Homo sapiens: one gene and its partners. The main gene of each other region encodes a partner of the protein of the gene in region 3 in a complex. Each region holds a gene or a part of one and is shown on either strand. Other genes may lie near its edges. The genes, in order: RELA, RANBP3, KPNA4 and NFKB1.

Region 1 (7,703 bases), on a different chromosome or scaffold from region 3:
AAAAAAAAAAAAAAAGTACTAACTATTCACCGAAAACATCTACAATGACTGACTCAGTAGCAATAAGTATCCGAAGTACTCAAGCTGTAGTCTTTAAATATCATTTCCTACTAAGAGAAATCAGGACTCCTTGGAAAGCTGTCTGATTCCAGATCTGGGGCAGAAAATTTACTAGATGAGTCTAGAAATATCTTTTCAGGCCAGGCGCTGTGGCTCATGCCTGTAATCCCAGCACTGTGGGAGGCCAAGGCAGGTGGATCACCTGAGGTCAGGAGTTCGAGACCAACCTGACCAATATGGAAACCCCATCTCTACTAAAAATACAAAAATTAGCTGGGCGTGGTGGCACACTCCCATAATCCCAGCTACTTGGGAGGCTGAGGCAGGAGAATTGCTTGCACCCGGGAGGCAGAGGTTGCAGTGAGCCGAGATTGCACCATTGCACTCCAGCCTGGGCAGTAAGAGCGAAACTCCATCTCAAAAAAAAAAAAGGAAAAAGAAAAGAAATATCTTTTCATACCAAACAGCAAAGAAGCTATCACAGGCTACTGTAATTGCTTTTTTAAAATTATTTTTTTAATAGACATAGGGATCTTGCCATGTTGACCAGGCTGGTCTTAAACTCCTGGCCTCAATCAGTCTTCCCCATTCAGCCTTCCAAAGTGCTGGGATTACAGGTATGAGCCACCAAGACTCATATATTGGAATTGTGTCAAAAGGACTGAAGAACAACCAACTTGAAGAAGTTCTCCCTAACCAAAGACGAATAATTTGAATTTCAATAACTATACTTGATTAAAACACAGCTAATATATTTAAATCCATGCATTCATTAAGATTTTAAAAAACTCAGCCGGGTTTGGTAGTTCATGCCTGTAATCCTAACACTTTGGGAGGCTGAGACAGAAGGATCGCCTGAGCTCAGAGGTTCGAGACCAGCCTTGGCAACATAGCAAGATCTTGTGTCTACTAAAAATTAAAAAAAAGAAATTAGCTGAGTGTGGTGGTGCACGCTGTTAGTCCTAGCTACTTGGGAGGCTAAGGTGGGAGGATTGCTTGAGCCCAGGAGTTTGAGGCTGCAGTGAGCAACGAGTCATGCCACAGCATTCCAGCATGGCGACAGAGTGAGACCCTGCCTCAAAAAATTGTTTTCTTTTTAATTAGCTGTGTGTGGTGGTGAGTGCTTATAGTCCCAGCTACCTGGGAGGCCGAGGTAAGAGGATCCCAACTGATAGGGGCGTTGGTGGGAGAAAAAGTAGGTTTACTGATTTATTCTGAAAGCCAGCAAGACTGAGAGGACGGTGTACTAGCGTTCTAAAGTACCATTTTAAGTCAGTACAATCTTAGGCTCTTTCTATGTTAAGGGCAGGGAAGAGAAGGAGGGTGTGGTCAAGAAGTACCCCATGGCAGACATCTGGGCAGCAGCGAGGGTCTGAGGAGGTTGGGAACTTCTTTGTCCTTGGTCCAGTCACAATGCTCCTATAAATCTTTAAGAAAACATAGTTGTTTACATACTTCTTTAACCCCAGACTAAGTTTTAAAAACTACATGATTGCTGTTTTTATATATTACTCAGTGCTCTAAAGCTTATGGCAGCAAAAAATTAGAAGTCCAAATGCCCATGGCTGGGCACGGTAGCTCACGCCTGTAATAGCACTTTAGGAGGCCGAGACGGGCAGATCACCTGAGGTCAGGAGTTAGAGACCACCCTGGCCAACATGGTGAAACCCTGTCTCTACTAAAAGTACAAAATTAGTCAGATGCAGTGGTTCATGCCTGTAATCCCAACATTTTCAGAGGCTGAGGCAGGTGGATCACCTAAGGTCAGGAGTTTGAGACCAGCCTGGCCAACATGGTGAAACCCCGTCTCTACTAAAAATACAAAAAGTTAGCCAGGCATGGTGGCAGGCACCTGTAATCCCAGCTACTCAGGTGGCTGAGGCAGGAGAATCACTTGAACCTGGGAGGCAGAGGTTGCTGTGAGCCGAGATTGTGCCATTGCACACAACAAGAGCGAAACTCTGTCTCAAAAGAAAAAAAAAATACAAAATTAGCCGGGCATGGTGATGCATACCTGTAATCCTAGCTACTCAGGAGGCTAAGGCAGGAGAATCACTTGAACCTGGGAGGCAGAGGTTGCAGTGAGCCGAGATGGTGCTATTGCACTCCAGCCTGGGCCACAAGAGAGGAACTCCATCTCAAAAAAATAAAAATAAAAATGCCTATCTTCAGGATGAATAAACAAACTGTGGTATATTTACACAACAAAATAGTATACAGCAGTGAAAAAGTGAATTAACTGTGAAACATGAATCATAGTAACAGGTTGAGTGAAAAAAGCAAGTAACAAAGGACAACAAATCATATGATGCCCTCTTCATAAAAGTTCAAAACTGGCTGGGTGCGGTGGCTCACACCTGTAATCTCAGCACTTTGGGAGGCAGAGGCTGGCGAATCACCTGAGGTCAGGAGTTCGAGACCAGCCTGGCCAACATGGTGAAACCCCGTCTCTACTAAAAAAATACAAAAATTAGCTGGGCGTGGTGGTTGGCCCCTTTAATCCCAGCTACTCAGGAGGCTGAGGCAGGAGAATCGCTTGAACCTAGGAGGCAGAGGTTGCAGTAAGCAGAATGCCACTGCATTCCAGCCTGCGCGACAGAGTGAGACTTTGTCTCAAAAAAAAAAAAAAAAAAGTTCAAAACTAAGGAAAACCAAAAGATATATTGTGTAGGCATGCAGATATAACTTTTTTTTTCTTTAAAATACAGAATTCTGGGCCAGGTGTGGTGGCTCATGCCTGTAATCCCACTTTGGGAGGCTGAGGTGGGAGGATCGCTTGAGCCCAGGAGTTTGAGACCAGCCTGGGCAACACAGTGAGACCCATCTCTATTTACAATAAATTAATTAATTAATTAATTTAAAAAATACAGAATTCTGGCCCAGCGTGGTGGCTCACGCCTGTAATCCCAGCACTTTGTGAGGCCAAGCGGGGAGGAAAGTTGAGCTCAGGAGTTCAAGACTAGCCTGGACAACAAGGTTAAACCACTTCTTTACAAAAAATACAAAAACTTAGCCGGGCATGGTGGTGTGCTCCCGTAGTCCCAGCTATGCAAGAGGCTGAAGTGGGAGGATTGCTTGAGCCCAGGAGGTAGAGGCTGCAGTGAGCAGAGATTGTGCCACTGCACTCCAGCCTGGGCGACAGAGACAGACCGTGTCTCAAAAAATAAATAAATAAATAAATACAATACAATACAATACAATACAATACAATACAATACAATACAATACAGAATTCTGGATGGTGGTGGCCCCTTGAGTTTTGCAATGGGTACATGGGTGTTTATCGTATTAATTTAAAAGTTATAAATATACATGAATTTTAAGAAGAGGATCCATGCAAGGTTCAATGATAATTGTATATCATTAACCAAAGATTTTAATTAATCCATTCTGTCACCTGAAGTCGGCCTCCCCCGCCCCCTGCCAAAAGTAAACACTTTTCTAATCAGGGCCAGCCACTGGAGAAACTGAAATGAGTGGGCGGGGTGCTAACTCTATTTTCACTTTTCTCTTCCTGTTTCTTCAGAGCCTGGGAAACAAGTCAGAATTTCCAATCTTTTCCAATTCCCACATGATTTCCTAATTTAAGACGAATTCAGAGAAAATAAAAAAGTCTTTCTCCATCTGGAGAAGACTCCGCCCCCTGCAGTGGAGCATCCTCCTTTGGGGATGAGGCCTGGGGTGGGGGTGCGTCAGCCCCAGCCTCCACACGGACGCGCCTTGGGCTTGGTCTTGGGGGAGCTACCTGCACTGTGGGGTCACATGACAGAATTAGTGGTCAGCCCTAGCTGGAGGTCCAGGGCAAACACAGGCGGGGGCAGGGGGGTGGGGGGTCGTGAGCCTGCTGATTCAAGTGTCCCTGTGGGTCCCGCACCTTCTGAGACACAAGCGCCAGGCTTCAGAGACGAGGCTCCGGGATTTACCCCTGGGGGCCTCCTGCTCCCACAGCCGATGAGAGCCGGCAGTTTGGCTGTATCGTAAGCTGGCGCTTTAGCTGGAGAGGGACGAGCCCTCGGCCAGCTCGCCAGCGGGAGGGCCTCAGTCGTCCCATCCGGGCTGTAGGCTCCGCAAAGCTCTTGATGCACTGTCAGGCTGGGAGGTCCGGCCGCTCCCATTCCCCCACAGCCGCATCTAGATTGGGGTGGGTAGGACATTTTAACGTGCTTCTGAGACAGCCACCACCGAAAGGCACCTTTAGCGGTTAGGAAACCCGCGCGGAGTTCAACCACCCGGCCTCTGCGGAGCAGAAGGCCCGGTCGGGCTTTTCCCTGCGCGGGGCGGGCGGCCGCAGCCCAGTAGCCCTGGCTTTGCTCCAGACCCGGCCCAGAGTGACATCACCAAACTCCGCCGATCGGCGGGAGGGGGCCCTGAAATCCCCTAAAAACAAAGTGAGTAATCGGCGGACCCACCCTCCAGGCGGGGCCGGGACCCGGGAGCTAGCCGAGCCACCGGGCACGCCAGCCTCTTCGTCCTCGGCGAGGCGCGCACTTGGCCCCGACCCCCGGCAGCGGCTGTGCGTGCAGCCTCTTCGTCCTCCGCGCGGCGTGCACTTGCTCCCGGCCCCTGCGCCGGGCGGCGGCGGGGCAGCGCGCAGGCGCGGCCGGATTCCGGGCAGTGACGCGACGGCGGGCCGCGCGGCGCATTTCCGCCTCTGGCGAATGGCTCGTCTGTAGTGCACGCCGCGGGCCCAGCTGCGACCCCGGCCCCGCCCCCGGGACCCCGGCCATGGACGGTGAGGTCGCCCTCTGACCCCGCGGGGTGGCATCGCCGGGGCCGCCGCGGCTGTGGCGGGAGCCCCCGCGCCGCTTTCCGCCCCTTCCTGCGCCGACGGGCGCTGCGCAGGGAGCGGTCGGCCTGCCGGATGGTGGCGCGGGGCGGGGCAGGCGGGGAGGGGTCTGACTCAGTTTCCCCTCTGGGTGGAGGGGGTGGCCCTTGACTCAGCATCCTCCCTGGGTGGGGGAGCAGAGGGAACCTTGACTCAGTTTCCCTCCACACCGTCCATGGGGGCAGCTCTGGCTTCGTTTCCCTATTAGGGGAGAACGCATCTGATTCAGTTTCCTCTCTGGAGGGAGGTGGGGCGTGCCCTCCCTCAATTTTCCTTAAGAAAGTACAACAGGCCCTGATTCAGCTTCCCTCTGGAGAAGAAGGATTCCTTACCCCGTTTTCCCTCAAGAAGCAGGTGTTTCTGGTTCCTTTCCTCCACCCCTTAGTTTCACCGCAGGTTCTAGGGAGCAGGTCCTGACTCAGTTCCCCTGGGAGGGAGCCTGGCTTCTCCTCTCCGTGGAGAGCAGATTCCTCCTTGTGAGAATGGGCATTGGGTGTGTGCTGACCCTGATCTCCCTCCCCTTTCAGAACTGTTCCCCCTCATCTTCCCGGCAGGTAAGTGGCCCCCGCGGCGGTCGGGGAGGTGCTCCCTGGGGTAGGGCAGTGGGGGCAGCCGCCTAATGGGGCTGCGGTGTCCCCTGGCAGAGCCAGCCCAGGCCTCTGGCCCCTATGTGGAGATCATTGAGCAGCCCAAGCAGCGGGGCATGCGCTTCCGCTACAAGTGCGAGGGGCGCTCCGCGGGCAGCATCCCAGGCGAGAGGAGCACAGATACCACCAAGACCCACCCCACCATCAAGGTCAGCACTGCGCCAGGGTGTGCGGGGAAGGGACTGTGGAACCCCAGCCCTCTGTGTTTGGGAGTCAGGTTTGGATGTCTGGGCCTCTGTACTTTGGACAGATCAATGGCTACACAGGACCAGGGACAGTGCGCATCTCCCTGGTCACCAAGGACCCTCCTCACCGGCCTCACCCCCACGAGCTTGTAGGAAAGGACTGCCGGGATGGCTTCTATGAGGCTGAGCTCTGCCCGGACCGCTGCATCCACAGGTGAGGTCCCTGCAGGCTAGGAGGCCCAGCATGAGGGGACAGGAGGCGGGCTATGAAGTAGCCGCTACAGTGTTACTCCTTTCTGGACCCAGGGCAGAATTCCTCACTCCTTGCCCTGACTCAGCTCTGCAAGTAAACTGCCTTTGTCTTGAAATTATCTATTTGTACGTTTACTCTAGCAGATGAGTTCCAGGGGATACGGATGGGTCCCTAATCACTTCTGAATTCCTGACCCCTGTAGCTGGAAGGACAAGTCCCTCAGAGTCACGTCTCTTGTTTGAGGAAGAAAACCATTGAACCAGCACTCTCCCCTGGAGTTGACATTGCAGTTGACAGAGACAGGCTGTAAAAAAATATACAGGCCGGGCATAGTGGCTCATGCTTATAATCCTAGCACTTCGGGAGGCCAAGGCAGGAAGATCTCTTGAGCCTAGGAATTCAAGACTAGCCAAGGCAACATAGTGAGACCCCATGTCTACAAAAAATAAGAAATTAGCTGGGTATGGTGGCATGCGCCTATAGTCCCAGGGAGGCTGAGGTGGGAGGATCGCCTGAGCCCAGGAGGTCACTGCTGCGGCAAGCTATGATTGCACCACTGCACTTGGGTGGCAGGGCGATACCTTGTCTTTTTTTTTTTTTTTTTTTTTTTAAGAAAGAGTCTTGCTCTGTCCCCAGACTGGAGTGCAGTGGCGCGATCTCAGCTCACTGCAACCTCCACCTTCCGGGTTCATGCCATTCTCCTGCCTCAGCTTCCCGAATAGCTGGGACTACAGGTGCCTGCCACCACGCCTGGCTAATTTTTTGTATTTTTTAGTAGAGACAGGGTTTCACCGTGTTAGCCAGGATGGTCTCAATCTCCTGACCTTGTGATCTGCCTGTCTTGGCCTCCCAAAGTGCTGGGATTACAGGCTTGAGCCACCGCACCCGGCCCGACACTGTGTCTCTTAAAAATAAATAAATACACAGATAAATAAACAAGGTGCTGTCAGAGTAACAGTTTCAGTCCTGAAAATAAAACGAGGTCATAGGATAGAAGGATAACCTGGGGTGGGGGAGTTAGGGGAGCTGGTGTGTGATGACTTTAGATTGGGAGGTCAGGGAAGGCCTCCCTCAGCTAAGACTTGAATGGTGAGAAGGAGGAGAGAAGTAGGAAAAGAACATTCCAAGCCGACCAAACAAGTGCAAAGGCCTTGAGGTGGGAATGAGTGTCCTGTGTTTAGAGAGTGGAAAAGGAGCCCCGGTGGCTGTAAGCAGGGAGCCCACAGGGAGGCTGGCAGGGGCAGGGGCACGGAGGTGCTTGTCAGCTGAGTGAAGGGACAGGGTTCGTTGCAGCACAGTAGGAAGCCACTGGAGAGGGTTAGGCATGGAGCGATGATCTAGGGGTGGGCAGAGTAGGAAGGAGCAGGCTGGGCAAGGCAGGAAGGTCTGGGCTCTGTGAGAGACAGTGGGACAGACGACTGGGGGCGCTCAGTTTCCAGAACCTGGGAATCCAGTGTGTGAAGAAGCGGGACCTGGAGCAGGCTATCAGTCAGCGCATCCAGACCAACAACAACCCCTTCCAAGGTGAGGGCAAACCTGCCTGCCACACCCGCACCCTCTGTCACCCTCCCCAGCCCGCCTTTCCTGCATCTCCCTCACTGGCCAAGACACAGTAAAGCTGGAATCTTGGTGCCCATTCAGTACTCTCCCACTTTACCACTGGGAAACTGAGTCCCAGGAGGGGACATGACATTCAGGCCACAGTGGAGTCAGTGCTGGGTTCTGCCTCCTCT
Region 2 (3,543 bases), on a different chromosome or scaffold from region 3:
TCCTAAGGAAACCAGAGGGCAGGGCTGGCCCACTCAGGGGAGGCCAGTCAGGAGGACGTGGACTCCCATGGAGGCCGATGTCTCACACACACAGAAAGCGCATGCACCTTGAGTGTCAGCCCCTGCCTCCCGCAGCCCACCCCGTACTCCTCTCTAATCCCCCCTTCTCCAAGGGAACTGCCATCCTGGTGCCCACCTGTGTGGACCAAACACAACCTCCCACAAGCTGCATGTGGCCTCTGGTCACTGATCTGCAGCACCAGCCTGTGCAGCCACCTGCAGTTGTGGCCTTCAGTGGTCCAGGCTTGGGGAGGAGGAGCCCCGCCCCGGGAGCAGGTGTGCCAGGGCTGGCCTCAGGGAGAAGTCTTGCTCTGTGGGTGGGTCCTGGGAGGATCATGGGCTTTTGCGCGGTGATGTCGCTTTCCATCTGGACTGTGTTGGCTCTTGGAGCTGGCTGTTTGTGAGGGGGCCGGTGTGGGGGCCAGGGCTGAGTGGCCTTGTTGGTTGTAGTGATGCGGACCCAGGGGAGCCTGCGACTGATCCTCAACACCAAGCTGTGGGCCCAGATGCAGATCGACAAGGCCAGCGAGAAGAGCATTCGCATCACAGCCATGGACACCGAGGACCAGGGCGTGAAGGTCTTCCTGATCTCGGTGAGCCAGCCACGCGGGTGCATCTGGGACCCCTCATCCTGCCAGCCCTGTGGGGGTTCCTGGGCACACAGATCAGGCAGGACGGTGGGGAGGGGAGGGGGGAGGGGCTTCAGTTGCTTCCTGGGACACAAGAAGCACTATGGGACCCGCCAGTCCCAGCCTTCAGGAATAGAGATCATGGTCCTTGTCCTCTTCTCAACCCAGAGAAGCCGCTGGGGTTTGGCTGAGGGGTTGTGATGTGTTCAGGGCTAACAGCCCTGTGGGGCGGTCACCTCTCTCCTATGTCATGGTGTCACAGTCGAGTCCACCAACCCTGACCTCTGGGATATTCCCAGCCACCTGGGAGTGGTGGCATCCTTTCGGGGAGAGGCCGGCAGGCCCAGGGCCAATGGCCTCCCCACAAGGCCTTGTGGCAGTGTCACCTCTGAACCTTGGGACTTGGCACTTGTGTTCTGCAGAAGGCAGGAGGGGGTAGGACTGGGGTCCGGGGGTCTCATACCCTCCTCCCTTCCCAGGCCAGCTCCAAGGACACAGGTCAGTTGTATGCAGCCCTGCACCACCGCATCCTGGCCCTGCGCAGCCGCGTGGAGCAGGAGCAGGAGGCCAAGATGCCCGCGCCTGAGCCTGGGGCAGCCCCATCCAACGAGGAGGACGACAGCGACGATGACGATGTCCTGGCTCCTTCAGGGGCCACCGCAGCTGGTGAGTCGGGTGGTCCCTACCCTGGGGGGGATAGAAAGAGCTGCCCGCCATCCTTGATCCAGTGCTGATCTCCTGGCGGGGGTGGCCAGACCTGGGAAGTGCGGGCTCCATCCTGATGCGGGGCTGCTGCTTCCCTGCAGGTGCTGGTGACGAAGGGGACGGGCAGACGACCGGGAGCACATAGCGGCCGGGAGCCCGGCTGCACACCAGGCTGCTGCTTTGTCCGTCTATCCACCCGCCCACCCGCCCCCACCCCACCGGCAGCGTCCAGGTGCGGGGCCGGGAACCACACACCCCACTGGGCCGGCCACAGTCTGGACCCGCACGTCCTGTTCAAAAGCAGACTCGGGAACTGCCTGAATGTGGTTTGGGACACGAGACCTCATCATATTGATGAGCGAACAAACAAGAACATTTCCTCCCTCCCCTCCTTTGAATTGAAATGGCACATTAAGACTTGTCACGGCTTCTCACTGGGACTGGAGACCTCGTTCCTTCACCCCGCGTGTCGCCAGCCTCTGGGTCCAGCCAGAGCCCCTGGCTTCTCCGCCACCCACACCCTTCCCACCCTGCTGTGGGGCCCTGCCTTTGTGGGGAGCAGCCAGCCCTCTGCCCCTGCCCAGGGCTCCCCAACTATAGGCCTGGGACCCCCGCCCAGCTTGGGGGGCTGCTCGTACGAGTGTAGACACTGGGCCCATTGGACGTGCTGTTAACTACTATCTTCATTTCCCACTTCCCCTCTCTGATTGGGGGTGTATATTTTACATCTTTTTTTCTTTTTATTTTCGAAGGCTTTGTTTTGGTTTCTTAGGTTAAGATGCTCTCGAGCGTTGAGCAGGCACAGCTCTGTCGAGGTCCCTGTCCCCCACCTGTGGTTCTGGCCTCTGAGGTTGGGGGACTACTTGTTTCCCACCCCAGGTTCCTCCAGGCCAAGTCATGGGGTGATGAGGAGTTGGGGCCCTGTCTGTCCTAGGCCTGGAGAGTGCCTGTCTGGGAAAAGGTCACTGGACCTGGAAGGGTCCCCAGGGTCCCCTGACTCCCGTCTCCATCTGTCACGTGGTTCACCATCATCAGGCACCAGGCGCAAACTGCTTCCCGCTGTTGGCCATCCCTTCCCCAGCCACAGGTGTCCCTGCCCCCAGGACAGTCCAGGGCCAGGGGCTTCTGTGAGAGGCAGAGGGGGACCCTCACCAAATCTTGGTGGAAGAGCCCAGGGGCTGGTCCCAGAACAGGCAGTCTCACAAGCACGCAGCACACTGGAGTGGACGCCTGTGCCCACCCGAGCCTGGAGCATGGCCAAGAGCCAGCTTGCACCACCCACCTGGGAGGCCGAGGAGGAGGTCCCCTGGGCACAGGGCCTCTTTGGGACTTCAGAGGAAATCTCCCAGTCCCACTCTCGGAGGGTTAAGAGAAGGCCTCCTGCAGCTGTGCCGTCCACACCTCTAGGTCGCCAGAGCCCTGGCCCCCAGCCCCCAGCAAGCCTGAGCCCGGGAAGAACCAGAGGCCCTCCCGAGAGACCCAGTCACACGTCTCTGCTTTAAGCCTTAGCCAGCTAGTGACGAGTACAACGAGATAACGCCCATGTGTTTTGGAACATTTATGTAAGATTGTCATATGAAATGTATTTGGGAACTACATTAAACTTTTAACTAAAACCCTGGCCTCTGCATGCCCCAGGGGCCTCAGGAAGCCCCTGACCAGGAACGGCCTCCACCTCCCCGGGCGAGGACCTCCAGCAGCCTGGGGCCTCATGCTCCCACCCAGCGTGTCACCAGTGCTGGGGTCCAGCCACAGCCCTGTTCTCTCCACCACCACCCGCACTTTACCCCCACCCCTGCTGCAAGGCCCCGCCGGTCTGCCCCCGCCCAGAGCTCCCAGCCTCGGGCCGCTCACCAGAATGTAGATACTGGGCCCGCTGGACATGTTACCTGCTATTTTTATTCCCCATTTGCCATCTTCTGATTGGGGGTTGATGTTTTACAGATTTTTTTTTCAAAGGCTTTATTTCAGTTTCTGAGGTTAGGATGCCCCTGTGCCCCTCGCTCCACACCTGGGCAGGTCTAAACTTCCTTCCAGGATGGCCTCCACACACAGCCTCCCACCTGGGGTCACCTGGCTTCCTGGGGGACCCGCAAGGGAGGGGCAGGGAGCAGCAGTCCGGGTGCGGGGATCGGGGGACCTCGGCGGG
Region 3 (7,060 bases):
TACATAGGGGGTTTTGCCCTGAAATGTATGTCTGATTTATTCCCTAAACTTTCACCCCAGAATGAGCTTGATATCAAATCAAGAATTTATATAAATAGAAGGAACTCAGTAAACTAGAAGCAATAACGACTCAATCCACAATTTTTTTTTTTTTTTTTGTGGTGGAGCTAGCTGAGGTTTTATTTTGGACCAAAAAAAAAACCACAATTGTTTTCTAGCTGGAAGCATGGGCAAGGGGGGTCCCCAGACAGTAAACTCCCCCACGGGTGGGTTGAGCCTCAGGTGGGGGGTCTCCTGTTGTCTGTGCTTCCCCACACAGCAGCCTCCCTCCTGGAGTCTGTGGCAGCCACGGGAGGGGCAGACTAGGAGGAGCTGCCACAGTTGTTCACTTGGGCAGGAAGTCAGAGGACTCAGACACCAGCTTCCCATCGCGGGTCTCGATCTTCTTCACAACCACGGCCCTGGTGGAGCTGGTGCACCTGAAGGAGCTGAAGCCTGTGCCAGAGCCAAAGCTGGAGCCCAGGCCATAGCTGAGGTCACGAGTTGTGAGGCCCACATAGGCCGAGCTCAGATCACCTGCATAGCCGCTGGTGGTCTTCGTATGGATACTCATGTTCTGCATCCCAGACTCCAGCTGGCTCTCCTAGCTCTCCCGCAGCTTTCTGTAGGTGGCGACCTCCATTTCCAGGCCAGCTTGACTTTCATCAGCTCCTGGTACTCACACGTTGCAGAGTGGCCTCCAGCTTGGAGAGCTTGGCATTGGCATCCTTAACGGCCAGCTCCCCACGATGCTCAGCATCTGGGATGGTGGCCTCCAGGGAAGCCCCCTGGCCTTGGAGGCCCTCAATCTCAGCCTGGAGCTGGCTGATGTTCCGGTTCATCTTGGAGATCTGAGTCTTTGTATGCCGCAGGTCATCCCTGTGCTTCCTAGCCAGCGTCTGCAGCTCCACATACTTGATCTGGTACGTGCTCTCAGCCTCAGCCCGGCTGCAGTTGGCAACCTCCTTGTACTGCCTCTTTACCTCAGTGATGATGCTGTCCATGTCCAGGAGTGGCTGCTGTCCATGGACAGCACCACAGACATGTTGGAGATCTGGGACTGCAGCTCCCGGATCTCCACTTCATACAGTCGGCCCTTCCAGGTGAGACTCCAGCTCTACGTTGTTCATGTAAGTTTCATCCACATCCTTCTTGATGAGGACAAATTAATTCTCCATCTCTGTAGGCTTATTGATCTCATCCTCATACTTGTTCCTGAAGTCCTCCACCAGCCCCTGCATGTTGCCAAGCTCCGCTTCCAGCCTCAGCTTCTCCTGGCTCCAGCAGCCGCCTAAGGTTGTTGATATAGCTCCCGAACATGTTGTCCATGTTGCTCCCAGCCATCTTGTGCTGCTGCAGAAGGCTCCACTTGGTCTCCAGCACCTTGTTCTGCTGCTCCAGGAACCATACCTGGTCTGTGAAGGAGGCAAACTTGTTGTTGAGGGTCTTGATCTGCTCCTTCTCCTGGGTGTATACAGCCTGGATGTTGGAGTCCACCTCCAGGTTAAGGGGGCTCAGCAGGCTCTGGTTTACCGTGATGGTGGTGATGCCTCGCATACTGCTGGCCCCACCATAGCCTCCGCCCAGGCCACCCCAGAAGCTGCACAGTGAAGCTCCCCACTAGGGAGAAGCTCAAGGAGCTGGTGCAGGCACTGGGCCCACTAGTGTAGGGGTGGCTGCTGAAAGCCTGGGGGCCAAAGGTGGACACCTTGTAGGACTTCTGGATCACCCTGATGGACATGGTGGAGGCAGGAGTGGAGGCAGCAGGCTAAACCAGGTGGAGATTCCAGAAGGAGCAGAGAAGCTGCTTCTTGATCTCAATCCACATTTTTATCAAGAGGGGTTAGCTTGCTTTTCAATTTAAGTGGAGGCCTGTGGCATTTCTGTAATACTTAAAGGCATTTTTTCTGGTTTTCCTGACTTCTGCTTTAGGGGCATATGTTCTTGCATTTGACAAATAGTCCCTGAGTACTTATGTGCCAAGTACTATTAGGTGCTGAGTATACAGTAGTGAACAAAACAACTATGGTTCTTGACTTCAGAGAGCTTACTGTCTAGGGAGGAAGACAGATTTTAGATAAATAAAATTATAAATTGCGGTTATTTCCTATTTGTATTGCATCTTTCTCAGCTGGTAACTAATTACAACTCTTTTTTAGGAGTCTTCTGCAGAGAGAAAACTCGGGTTGTTGTTTAATCATCAGAGACACTCAGTTGTAGCTGGAGACATGAAGACATATAACAGACACGTCTATAAACTTCATCATGAAAGCTACCATGAAATGTATTCCAAGAAGTACAAAATGTTCATCTATTGATATGTTGACAAGATAACTTTTACTCATAGGGTGGGAATTCGCTGGTAATTTGTTTTCTTGAACACTGCTTATGATAAAATCCATGATGGCGCAAAATACATACATACTCCAGCTTTTCAAGTGAATTTTCTTATCCTAAACTCATTTTGAAAAACACCAGTGCTCTGGTATGCAAATACAATGTTACTTCAGTTAAATGAGTCTTTGAAGAATAACAGTTTATAATGAACATCATCATTTGTATTTAAGATCTGTTCTAAATTTATATTCAAGTTAACCTTCAGTGTGAGTTATTTCCAGGCACAGCTTCTGTTGTCCATAGCCCAGTTGATGGTATATAAAGTACTGACGACTTTAAAGGTACTACTCTGCTTCCTAAGTTTTTACCTTCCTTTCCCCCACTACAATATCCTCTCCAAAGTGATCCCTAAAGTACTCCGGCTCTTTTCATTGCCTCTCCCCCAAAGGAAACTCAGTTGTTCATATCTGTTAAACCCACTAACTTCTTCCATTTTAACTTAAAAAAAAATTCCCCTCTGTTGCCTTTAAAAGTGTTTCCTTAGGAAGATCTGCATTTTAAACACTTATCTGCACGTTGTTCTACTAAAAAAATATACTAGAAAGGACCGAGAGTCAACGATTCTGAAGGAGTTTGTATCAGGGTCTCTTCTCCCTACCTCGTCAAGTTTAAACACACCCAACGCCTCGATTCCTTGCTTCCGACCCGAGTTGCTGCTTTACATATCCCTGTACATTTGAGGTGTTATTCGTTGATATTTCAATATATTTTAAAATAATTTTCCATTTCTGTTTTGTTAAATTTTTGAATACGTTCTTTTGTATCTCGTGTCATTTCTGCCTCTGGTAACGTTGTCCTTGGTATCCTTGGAACTCATTTCCTTTCTCAACACACAATATTCCCTGTCAGCTGCCACGGGCCCCGCCCTCCAGAAGTTCATACTTTGTGGTCAAGCAGCTTCTTTAACTTTTTAAGACGAATTACCTAGGAAGTGCTATTGTCCCAGGATCACCAGCTCTGCCTAAATTCCTAACTGTTGCGGGTGCTTAGTCACAGAAGATGAATCAGATTCGTCTAATGGGCCCTTTCCTTTTCCACCCACCTTTCCTGTCGCTTTCCGCTGAGCCTCCTCAACTCACGTCATCCCAGCAGGTCCTGGCCCCCAGACCCGGCCCTGGACGGCACGGAGCCCCAGCCCGGGAACGCAGCTGCGAGCGTCCGACCGGGAGACAGCGAAGCTCAGATCTCTCTGCAAAGCGAACGGAGAGCGCAAGGAATGCCCAGGAAGACAGGGCGCGCCCGGGGAGAAAAGAACGTTACTTTAACGCAGCCTCGACCCTGAACCCCCGGCATCTAGGGCTTCCTGGACGAGTGGAGCAAAACAACTCGCCCTGCTGCGTTCCCGGGCCTCTCCTTCCCCTTGCTGGTTTCCCCTTAAGTCTACTTCTCTATTGCTTCCAACCCCTCTCTCCGAAGGCACGTGGTCCTTCCCCGCCTGCCCCCGCCGCACCCCTCCGGGCCCGGAGCCGGCTCCTCCCAGCGTCGTTCGCTTCCCCTTTCCGTTCGCTCTTTCCGCCCCGGCTCTCCATCGCCCCTTCTGATTGGTCGAACGCACCGGAGCCTGGTTAGCCAATGGGCGAGCCGGGCTGGAGGCGATGGGCGTGGCCGCAGCGCCGGGGCCCTCAGATCGAGGCTGCCTCCCCCTCTCAGCCGGCAGCACATTCCGTCGCCTTGCCGCCGCCCGGCCCCACAGTTGTCTTTGCCGGAGCTGCAGTCGCGCTGGGGTTAGGGCGGGGGGGCGGGCGGGGAGAGGAGAAGGCCGCGGCGGAGGCAGGTGAGAGGAGGAAGGAAGCGGCGGCGCGGCGGGCACAGCAGCTCAGGCGGCGGCCCGGTTCCTGGGAGTGTCGGTGCGGCGCGTTGGTTGGGGCGGATCCCGCGGGGCCCGGGCGGGGGAAGGAGTCACCGGCCCGGCCATGGCGGACAACGAGAAACTGGACAACCAACGGCTCAAGAATTTCAAGAACAAAGGCCGCGACTTGGAGGTAAACTCGGGGACGACGCCGGAGGGGTGGGGGCTGTGGGCCTGGGGCCGGTCTCCGCCGGGACCCCGAGTGTGGGGATTAGGGGCGGGAGCCGCCTCCAGGCCTCGGGGAATGGCGCTAGGGGCCGGCCCGTCTGTGACGCCTCTGCTAGCGCGCCGGGAAGTTTATGTCGGGCCTGCTCCGCCTCCGCCGGGGAGCGAGGTGCCCGGGTACGGCCGGCGCGGCCTAGGCCTGCCCGGCGGAGCCGGCCCGGCGCGGGTGCGAGGGGCCGGGCCGCGCGGCGGGGAGGCCGGGCGCGGCGCGTGCGGAGGAGGCGTGCGTGTGCGGCCGGTGCTGCCCCGGCCGGGCCGCGGCCCCTTCCCCGGCAGTGGCGGAGATTCCGGCTCTCGCTCGGGCACCGACGTCTGGCGCCGCGGGAAGGAGGGCGGTGGGAATGGGAGGGTGAGCGTGTGGCGACCGAGTGGGGCTCTGAACTTCCTCAGCGAGGCCCGAGGCGTCTCCACTTAAAGGCATTTTTTCTGGTCTTCCCGACTCCCGCTTTACCCCTGCCTCCCCCCAATATCCAAACTACAGGACAACTTCTCCGTTGAAAAAAACACCCCCGGCGTGAGAGGCCATCCTGGTGATCCTAACAGTGCCTTCCAGCGGCCTGTGTTTTACTCTGGATATAGCTGATTCAAGATGTGGCTCACGGTGTGCCCTCTTCCAGGCAAAGGATACCCCTTATTTCAGCTTGTCCACAAATCTCTTTACCCCCTCCTGAGAGGAGACCACCAGCTGCATTCTTACATATAAAGTCTAAAGGGTTATACAAAGCTGTCATCCTCTAGTCTACAGTATCCTTTCCCTCCACCTGCTGGTGGTGGTAGTGGGGGATGGGGTGGGCTAGGGAATGGCACCATCACGTTTGATTATTTAAAAAGGAAAAAAAAAGCTTCATTGTCTTAGATACAGCTGCTCCCGAGATTGTCTACATAAGGTGTATGGGTTAAATACACACATGCACACACGCATACCCACACACCCCACTGAGATTTTTGATAGAAGACTTCTTCCCTTCAGCTTTTAAGAGTTTAGATAAATAGATTTAATACTTCCCTTCTGCATCTTAATCACGAGTTTAGCTTTTAGGGAAAGTGGTCAAGCAGTATTTTTTATGTTGTTCTCGGTACGTTTTCATAATGAAATCTTCAACTTCCCATGGCATTTCTGAACTTGAGAGTCTGCTTGACTGAGATATTTTTTGGGCTTTTTACAAAGCTGTTAATATTATCTTTAAAGTAGTTCAAGCGTTTTAGTGGGTTTCATAATTTGAGGGACGACTAAGTGTCCAGGGATGTTAATTCTGTGGTTCTTTTAAGGTTAACATATTACCATTGTGATCCCTTTTTTTAATGCAAAGATGTCACATCTTTATTGAGATAATTTGCATGCCATAAAAATGAGCTTCTTAAATAACAATGATTTTTCAGTAAATTTACTTGTTTATGAAAGAATGTGGTGAAAATGTTTTTTACTAATATGAATACTTAGAATGAGAAAAAATCACAAATGATAAAACTTAAAAACTGGTAAGTACCACAAAATTACAGAATCCAGAAAAATAGCAATTAGGTGCTTGACAGATCCCTATAACCCTTTTTTCCTCTACATTTCTGGCTTCATTTTTCTGGCAGCTTCATTGAGATGTAATTCGCATGCCATACAATTCACCCACTTAAAGTGGCTTTTAGTGTATTCGCAGTTTTGCAACCATCACCACAGTCCATCTTAGAACATTTTCACGGCCCCAAAAAGAAACCTGTACTCATTAACAGTCACTCTCCAATTCCCAACTACCCCAGCCCCAGGCAACCAGTTTTTGTCTTCTTAGATTTGCCTATCCTGGACATCCCATATAAATGGAATTGTACAATTTGTGCTCTTTTTTAACTGGCTTCTTTCACATAGTGTAATGTTTTCAAGGTTTATCCGTGTTGTAACAAGAATGTATCAATGTTTCATGGCCGAATGATCCTTATGGCCGAATGATCCAATGATCCTCCAGCTCATGGATATACCACATTTTATTTATCCCTTCTTCAGTTAATGAACATTTTCATTGTTTCCACTTTTTTAGCTATTTTACATAATACTACTAAGAACATTTTTGTGTGGATGTATGTTTTATTTCTCTTGGCTATATACCTAGGAATAGAATTGCTAGATCATATGGAAACTTACTTTGAACCTTTGGTGGAATTGCCAGACTTTCTGAAGTTATCCTTATTTTTTAAATTGATGTTTCCTCCTACCTCATATCTTTTGGCACTTTAGTCAAAATCAGATTAAGTCCTGAGGCTGTATTAGAAGAATATTGTGATGTGTGACTTTTAAAAAATAAGTATATATTGACATTAGCCAGGTTTTTTTGTTTTGTTTTGTTTAGAAATTCATAGTGCCTTATGGTTGTCCTCTGATGACTTTGATATCCTTGTGCATACATTAGGGGTAGGAATATTTTCACTTCCACCTAAGGAAATAACATATGATTCTAATAGAAAGTCATACTTTGTCCACACTGTGACTTACTCAAAATCACATATGCTTGTAATGAGATAGAAACATTCTTTTTTATATTTAGAGAACAGTACAGTGGTCTA
Region 4 (6,934 bases), on a different chromosome or scaffold from region 3:
TCCTAACTCTTTGACCACTAATGTTTTAGAAACACTCTCCTGACAACTATCGCATCTTTGCAGTTGTTTCCATTTCCAACGCCATGTCTCTCTGAGCAGCAGCCTTGAGTTTTCAATTGCATATTTATTAGTCATTTCCATATGGACATCTCACTAAATCTGTCATACTAAACATGTCTAAAATATGTATGTTTACATGTTACATGTATGTTTGGTATGTGGGAATGCATTACATTCCCACAGATTTTTTCCCAGTTACAGTGTTACTATTCTAATCACTCAGACTAGAACACTCAGAGCTATCTATGAGTCTTCCTCTCACTCAAACTGCATATATAATCTATAAACAGGTCCTGTTGACCTCATCTTCTAAAAATCTCTTACATGCTCCTTTTTATATCATTGGATAATAGTTTAGTGTGGTGGTTAATATCATGCACACTGGAGCCAAATCTGTTAGGTTCAAATCCTGACTCTCCTTCTATTTACTAATTATGAAACCTTAGGAAAATTATTCAACTTTTCATCTGTAAATATGGGGATTATAATGGTGATCCACTTTATATGACTGACAACCAAATAAGTGAATACGTGTATAGCAGGTATTAACCATATGCTTAGCCGACCTATTTCAACCTCCTAACCAACCAGAAGAACTGTAGTTCCCTGCTCTCTTGCATCTAAGTGGGGCCATGGAATGTGGGCAGAAGTGTTGTGTCACCTTTACTCAGAGGCAATTAAAAAGAAGACATACTTTTCCTATGTTCTCATTGCCAATGAACACACTACACAGATCTCAACCTCAGAATTCTCTCCACACTGGTATTTCCAAAATAGCTTCATGAGAAGGGAAATTTGTGTAGTTTCAATGATTTAGTGATGCTATGGTTTGGGTATTTGTCTCCTCTAAACCTCATGTTGAAATGTGACCCCAATTTTGGAGGTGGGGCCTAATGGGAGATGTTTCGGTCATGGAGGTGGATCCCTCACAAATAGATTGATGCTATTCCCTGCAAGGAGGAGAGGATGAGTGAGTTCTCACTGCATTAGTTCCTATGAGAGCTGGTTGCTAAAAAGTTTGGCATCTCTCCCCTCTCTCTCGCCATACGATCTCTCTGCACACACCACCCGCCTTTGCCTTCCATTGAGTGGAAGCAGCCTGAGGCCCTCACCAGACGCATATGCTGGTGCCATGCTTCTTGTACAGTCTGAAGACTGTGAGCCTAATAAACCTCTTTTCATTATAAGCTACCTAGTCTTGTGTATTCTGCCATAGCAACACAAATGAACTAAGACAAGTGACAAACACAAAATAACTTGTCTTTTAGACAATATTGATGTCTGAAATTCCACATTGAGGCATTTTTTTCCTCTTCGTAGCCTGATAATGGCAAATACCTTCTGACACCTTAGGATGGATGAATTTGTAAGAGATATTCCTGGAAGCAGGTTTGTACAGTGTAGAGAAAATGTTGGGTAACAAAGCAGGAATGGAGGAGGGTTAATCAGCAAGCCAAAAAGCTTTTATAGTTTTGCCTGCTGTGCTGCATGGAATTACATCCCCCCAAAACATATGTTCAAGTCCTAACCACAGGTACCTGTGAACATGAGTTTATTTGGAACTAGGATCTTTGCAAATGTTATCAAGTTAAGATGAGGTAATACTGGATTGGGGTGGGCTCTAAATCCAATGACTGGTGTCTTCATAAAAGAAAGGTGAGGGAGAGTTGAATATAGCGACACAAAGGAAACACGGGGAAGGAGACCATGTGACAATGTAGGCACAGAATGGAGTGTTGCAGCCAAGCCAAGAATGGCAAGGATTGCTGGAGCTACCAGAAGCTAGGAGGAGGCAAAGGATTCTTCCCTAGAGCCTTCAGAGGGATCATGGCCTTAATGGCACCTTGAGTTCAGAATTTTAGGCTCCAGGACTGTGACAGAATAAATTCCCGTTGTAAGCTGTTCAGTCGGTGGTAAATTTTTACAGCAGCCCCAGGAAAATATGCCTGCTCAACACCCTACCCTGAATTTTAAGTTCATTTTATGGAATCATTTTGAGTTTGGAGTTTGATTTAATCCTTTTCAGTAATTAACGCTCTTCATTTTTTACTCCCAAATATGTCACACTGGCTCTACTCTTATAACAATTGTATTTATCTATCTTTTGGTAATGGGGCTGCCACCCCTTGCAGAATGAAAAGTAGAGTGTGTATGCTCACACCTCCCTCCCTCCCTCCCTCTCTCCCTCCCTCTCTCTTTCTTTCTTTCTCAGAGTATCGCTCTGTCTCGCCCAGGCTGGAGTGCAGTGGCGCAATCTTGGCTCACTGCAACCTCTGCCTCCAGGGTTCAAGCGATTCTCCTGCCTCAGCCTCTGGAGTAGCTGGGATTACAGGCGCCCGCCACCACGCCCGGCTAATTTTTTTGTATTGTTAGTAGAGATGGGGTTTCACCATATTGGTCAGGCTGGTCTCAAACTCCTGACCTCAGGGGATCCACCCGCCTTGGCCTCCCAAAGTGCTGGGATTACAGGTGTGAGCCACCGCACCCGGCTCACAGAATTTCTTAAAAAGTCATTGTGTTCAGTCTTTATGGATCCTCTAAATTCCAGCTGCTCAGCCTCCCGGAGCTAAATGAGATCACTTAAAGGTCGACTGTTGGGGCCTCCAAGGTCGCCTCGGAGACTCACCTCATAGGCAATCAAATGGATCGCTGGGTTTTTGTGTGTGTGGGTTTTTTTTGTTTATTTTTTTTTTCCAGAAAAACACTCCACCAAGAAGGTTTTTATAACCTACTGGAGGAGGAGGATGGAGAGTGGGCACGAAAGGACTAGGATGAACATGCCATAAGCAATCTAAATGCCACTGCAATATTGCCTGGTGAGGACCTGATTACTGATGTTTTAAAGCTAAGCTTTCAGTTGTCACTCCACCCAGTAGTGAAACAATGAGCTCTAAAATATATATTTCGGCTCAAGCTTTCTTATGTGGGGAGGTAATCCACCCGAAGGTATCCCCAGCCTGTACCTAATACAGTGCCCAGCACTAAAGCAGCTCAGATGCCAGTGAATGGTGGCCACTGGGAGGCCTGTCAGTGGGTGCCAGTAGCGGTCTCTTCAGAGAAAAAGAAAACTCCCCTCTGCCAGATCAGTATTTTATGAGCTGTGAACCAAAACCATTGCTACCACCATCACTATAATTCTATCCACAGTAATTATCATAAAGGCCTAACAATGCCTTGTAGATGAACATTCTGAGTAACTGCTCTATAACCAGGAGATTTAAGACCGCACCAAAAACCAGTAGAGGGTTATACTTTACTGGGCACAAGTCGTTTATGATAACGAAATTGTAGTTTAATCTGTGAAGAGATGTGAATGTAACTGAGACACGCTTAAATGGAATATACAGATGAGCTTTATTTTTATATCTGGCATGCTTGGATCCATGCCGACCCTCCAGCTGCTCGGGCCTGCCCTTAGGGGCTATGGACCGCATGACTCTATCAGCGGCACTGCCACCGCCGCCGCCTCCGTGCTGCCTGCGTTCCCCGACCATTGATTGGGCCCGGCAGGCGCTTCCTGGGGGCTTCCCTACCGGCTCCAGCCCTTGGGATTCGGGAGCGCCCTGCTAGGAAGCCAGAGCCCCGCAGGGGCCGCGGCGTCCAGGCCGCCTAACGCGCGCCCCTCGCCCGGCGCCCCGAAGCGGCCCCGAGGGGCGGGAGCCGAGGCGAGCGGCAAGGCCGGGCCGGGGGCGCACAGCGCCCCTAGAAGTGCGGGCTTCCCCCACCCCCGGCAGCGACCCTACCTCCCGCCCCCGCTGCGTGCGCGCGTGTGTCCGTCTGTCTGTATGCTCTCTCGACGTCAGTGGGAATTTCCAGCCAGGAAGTGAGAGAGTGAGCGAGACAGAAAGAGAGAGAAGTGCACCAGCGAGCCGGGGCAGGAAGAGGAGGTTTCGCCACCGGAGCGGCCCGGCGACGCGCTGACAGCTTCCCCTGCCCTTCCCGTCGGTCGGGCCGCCAGCCGCCGCAGCCCTCGGCCTGCACGCAGCCACCGGCCCCGCTCCCGGAGCCCAGCGCCGCCGAGGCCGCAGCCGCCCGGCCAGTAAGGCGGCGCCGCCGCCCGGCCACCGCGCGCCCTGCGCTTCCCTCCGCCCGCGCTGCGGCCATGGCGCGGCGCTGACTGGCCTGGCCCGGCCCCGCCGCGCTCCCGCTCGCCCCGACCCGCACTCGGGCCCGCCCGGGCTCCGGCCTGCCGCCGCCTCTTCCTTCTCCAGCCGGCAGGCCCGCGCCGCTTAGGAGGGAGAGCCCACCCGCGCCAGGAGGCCGAACGCGGACTCGCCACCCGGGTAAGCCAAACTCGGGCGAGTGGGGGCCCGGCAGGGGACGCGTGGCCCAAGTCCTGCCGCCCAGCCCTCCGCACCCCCTCCAGCCCCACTCGGACTTCCTCATTCCTGCGCTAACCGCTGGGCTAGACCGTGGGAGGAGGTTGACAGTAGCTGAGAGGCACATGGGATTAGCGACAGCGGGGAAAGACACATCCGGACCTCGCAGGGGCTAGTCGGCCGAAGGGCCGCGGCCGCCCGGCGGTCATTTCTCTTCACGTCCCTCCGCGGGGCGGGAACGCGAACCGGAGGGGAACTCTTACAAACTTTTAAAATCCCCAACCCCAGCCCCACCTGGGGGATGGTGAGAAGGTTGGAGTGCGCTGCGGCGCGGAGGAGAGAGGGAAGGTGGTTGGTGCAGTGCAGAACCAGATTTCACCTAAGGGCGTTCCATGAAATGAAAGCAGAAGTGCTTGTCAGTCCTCTTGGCTGGGAAAGCCCTCCCCAGCTCCCCAGAATTGAATAGGAGAGTCTATTCATCCCTCTCCTACTTCTAAAAGAAACCTGGCTCGCTCTCTGTCTCTCTCTCTCTCCCCCCTCCCCCCCTCCGTGCGCGCGCGCGCGCGCACACACACACACACACACACACACACACACACACACGATATAGTCACCTGCTATAGGACTTGATTCTGATCCTCCGGGGCCTGGCATTTGAGAGAGAAAATAAATTACCTACCTGGATACTTAGAGCACTTTTTAGACTTGATTATGTAAAACTCTTGGACAGTGCCACCATGCATTATGCATGACCGCTGAAACAAAAATAATGTAAAAACAAGGCCTATCCTAAATGCAAGTTTTTCTATGGTCCTTAAAAACAGACACCAGGGAATGTTTGCCCTGACTTGCTGGTTTATCCTGAAACTCAAATGGGACTTAATGATACAGGATTTAATTATCAAGATTGACATGTTCATGGACTTTGTTAAGTAGAGGTTTTCAGCATTACAGTTTATGAAATAACCATATTTAACTCAAAGATTTTTTTATAAAGCTCATAATCTGAAAAAATGCTTATGGTATTACTAAAACATTTAATAGCTCTGGCATCAAAATATTCTACATACTGGTGATCTTTTAGTAAATAGTAAAGGTTAGGGTCAAGATATTCAATAATTTTTTTCTAGCAGAATCCCACAACTGAATATTGTCAAGCAGTTTAAACTGCATTCGTGTTTGTTAAAACTTTAAAAGGGAAACTTAAAACTAAAGTATGTTGTTTTTCTGATTTTAATATTGTGCTTTCTAGAGATGAATCCTTTTACTGTTTGAGGCACTATAGGAATTATGTATTTAAATGTATGTATTTAAATTTGAAGCAATGTACTTTTTTGAGTTTATAAACTTGGGAAGACAGGAAATAAAAAGATTTGTTTCCTGTAGAATTTTACATTCATGATTTAATTGAATTGCTAAAATGGAAAGAACATGTACGATTAATGGAGACTTGGAATCTGAGATTATTCATCCATATTGATACACCTGCAATTCCTAAATGCCCTCCCCTGCTTGTTTAGATAAAATGTCTTCCTGGGCTGCAGCCTACTGGACAAACTTGAACACAAAGGAACACACGTTATATGTACATTTAATACTGGAACCGAAAAGCTGCTTGCAGTGAAAAGCAAACCACTTCTAAACTCTTTGAGACTTTTTAAAGAAGGTAGTATAATCCTTTTAGGGGTTGGTGGTGATGTGAAAATCTATTATCTTTTTGCTGAAATTTCATTCTTATGTTAGGCATTGGCACTCACTTGTGCTGAGTAAATGCCCGTGTTTTTCAAACCCAGATAGTAAATACTGGGGGTATACATACAAAAATAGTCCTTCCCCTTTGTAAGCATTGCTTTGATCTTTGCACTTCCTTTTTACTCTACCTCTTAAACAAGATCTGTGTTGATTGAGTTGATTAAAGCACAATTAATCTGAAATAGGCAGAATTTTAGATTTAGTGATTATATTCCTTACATTTCTGTTGTTACTGTTCCTGGAAACAAATTGAAGTAGTTTGAGAAACTAATATTTATGCAGGTTGTTTTAACTACACTTTTAGACTTGCAGATAATTGATTAAGTAAGTTACTACCTTGACTTTCAGGGATTGCTCATTGTGGTAGATACGAGGTCTAGATAGGGAATTGGCAGCTACATGAATGTTGGACTATCATTCCATCAGCAAGACCTTATTTTTACCTAATTTATGAGAGGTATTTCTCTGTTCAGAAGAGGTGAAAGTTCTGGCTTCTGGGGGGAAGTGGTTACTTCATAACCTTCAATTGGTTTGAACTTGGGAGAAGTAAGAAAAGTAGTCGATATTTTCAAACAGTAAAATAATTGTATCTGAGTTGCTGTATGGATTTTTGATGAAGTACTCAAAATGTCATCTTTTGCATCTTCGGGTCTTAGTAGATGTGCTATTCTGAGTATAGAATTGACTGCAGTAGGAAGTGTATCTGGAAATGCACAGTACTGTTGTATAACCAATAGAGTAAATTCTCAGATTATGCTCTTCTGGTCCACAGATTGATCAGAAATCACATTAACAGGAATGGA

Evidence for each region.
Region 1: the proteins of KPNA4 (region 3) and RELA are in contact, whole or in part, in a crystal structure (PDB 7LF4), measured with the Homo sapiens proteins. Residues at the interface, in NP_002259.1 of Homo sapiens: Lys231, Asp271, Arg306, Asn310, Val312, Thr313, Gly314, Thr315, Asp316, Thr319, Lys344, Glu345, Trp348, Ser351, Asn352, Ala355, Glu387, Trp390; in NP_068810.3 of Homo sapiens: Lys301, Arg302, Lys303, Arg304, Thr305, Tyr306, Glu307, Phe309.
Region 2: the proteins of KPNA4 (region 3) and RANBP3 are in contact, whole or in part, in a crystal structure (PDB 5XZX), measured with the Homo sapiens proteins. Residues at the interface, in NP_002259.1 of Homo sapiens: Arg96, Leu99, Ser100, Asp102, Arg103, Pro105, Phe133, Trp137, Thr140, Asn141, Ala143, Ser144, Gly145, Thr146, Ser147, Thr150, Glu175, Gln176, Trp179, Gly182, Asn183, Gly186, Asp187, Asn219, Trp222, Val225, Asn226, Arg229, Asp261, Trp264; in NP_015561.1 of Homo sapiens: Asn114, Tyr115, Cys116, Pro117, Pro118, Val119, Lys120, Arg121, Glu122, Arg123, Thr124, Ser125, Leu127.
Region 4: the proteins of KPNA4 (region 3) and NFKB1 are in contact, whole or in part, in a crystal structure (PDB 7LFC), measured with the Homo sapiens proteins. Residues at the interface, in NP_002259.1 of Homo sapiens: Arg96, Lys97, Leu99, Ser100, Ser101, Asp102, Arg103, Pro105, Phe133, Trp137, Thr140, Asn141, Ala143, Ser144, Gly145, Thr146, Ser147, Thr150, Gln176, Trp179, Gly182, Asn183, Gly186, Asp187, Asn219, Trp222, Val225, Asn226, Arg229, His230; in NP_001158884.1 of Homo sapiens: Glu357, Glu358, Val359, Gln360, Arg361, Lys362, Arg363, Gln364, Lys365, Leu366, Met367.

What each region holds. Positions count from the first base shown.
Region 1 is NC_000011.10:65,659,915-65,667,617, reverse strand, and holds the start of RELA (transcription factor p65), read left to right. Parts: upstream 1-4,701; 5' UTR 4,702-4,785; coding exon 4,786-4,792; intron 4,793-5,040; exon of another isoform or gene 5,041-5,239; intron 5,240-5,270; exon of another isoform or gene 5,271-5,412; coding exon 5,413-5,439; intron 5,440-5,529; coding exon 5,530-5,681; intron 5,682-5,749; coding exon of another isoform or gene 5,750-5,782; coding exon 5,783-5,931; intron 5,932-7,402; coding exon 7,403-7,494; intron 7,495-7,703. UniProt on the Homo sapiens protein: NF-kappa-B is a pleiotropic transcription factor present in almost all cell types and is the endpoint of a series of signal transduction events that are initiated by a vast array of stimuli related to many biological processes such as inflammation, immunity, differentiation, cell growth, tumorigenesis and apoptosis.
Region 2 is NC_000019.10:5,915,606-5,919,148, reverse strand, and holds the end of RANBP3 (ran-binding protein 3), read left to right. Parts: intron 1-510; coding exon 511-653; intron 654-1,168; coding exon 1,169-1,355; intron 1,356-1,495; coding exon 1,496-1,539; 3' UTR 1,540-3,010; downstream 3,011-3,543. UniProt on the Homo sapiens protein: Acts as a cofactor for XPO1/CRM1-mediated nuclear export, perhaps as export complex scaffolding protein. Bound to XPO1/CRM1, stabilizes the XPO1/CRM1-cargo interaction. In the absence of Ran-bound GTP prevents binding of XPO1/CRM1 to the nuclear pore complex.
Region 3 is NC_000003.12:160,562,572-160,569,631, reverse strand, and holds the start of KPNA4 (importin subunit alpha-3), read left to right. Parts: upstream 1-4,060; 5' UTR 4,061-4,349; coding exon 4,350-4,418; intron 4,419-7,060. UniProt on the Homo sapiens protein: Functions in nuclear protein import as an adapter protein for nuclear receptor KPNB1. Binds specifically and directly to substrates containing either a simple or bipartite NLS motif.
Region 4 is NC_000004.12:102,497,446-102,504,379, forward strand, and holds the start of NFKB1 (nuclear factor NF-kappa-B p105 subunit), read left to right. Parts: upstream 1-3,913; 5' UTR 3,914-4,343; intron 4,344-4,488; exon of another isoform or gene 4,489-4,727; intron 4,728-4,993; exon of another isoform or gene 4,994-5,041; intron 5,042-6,934.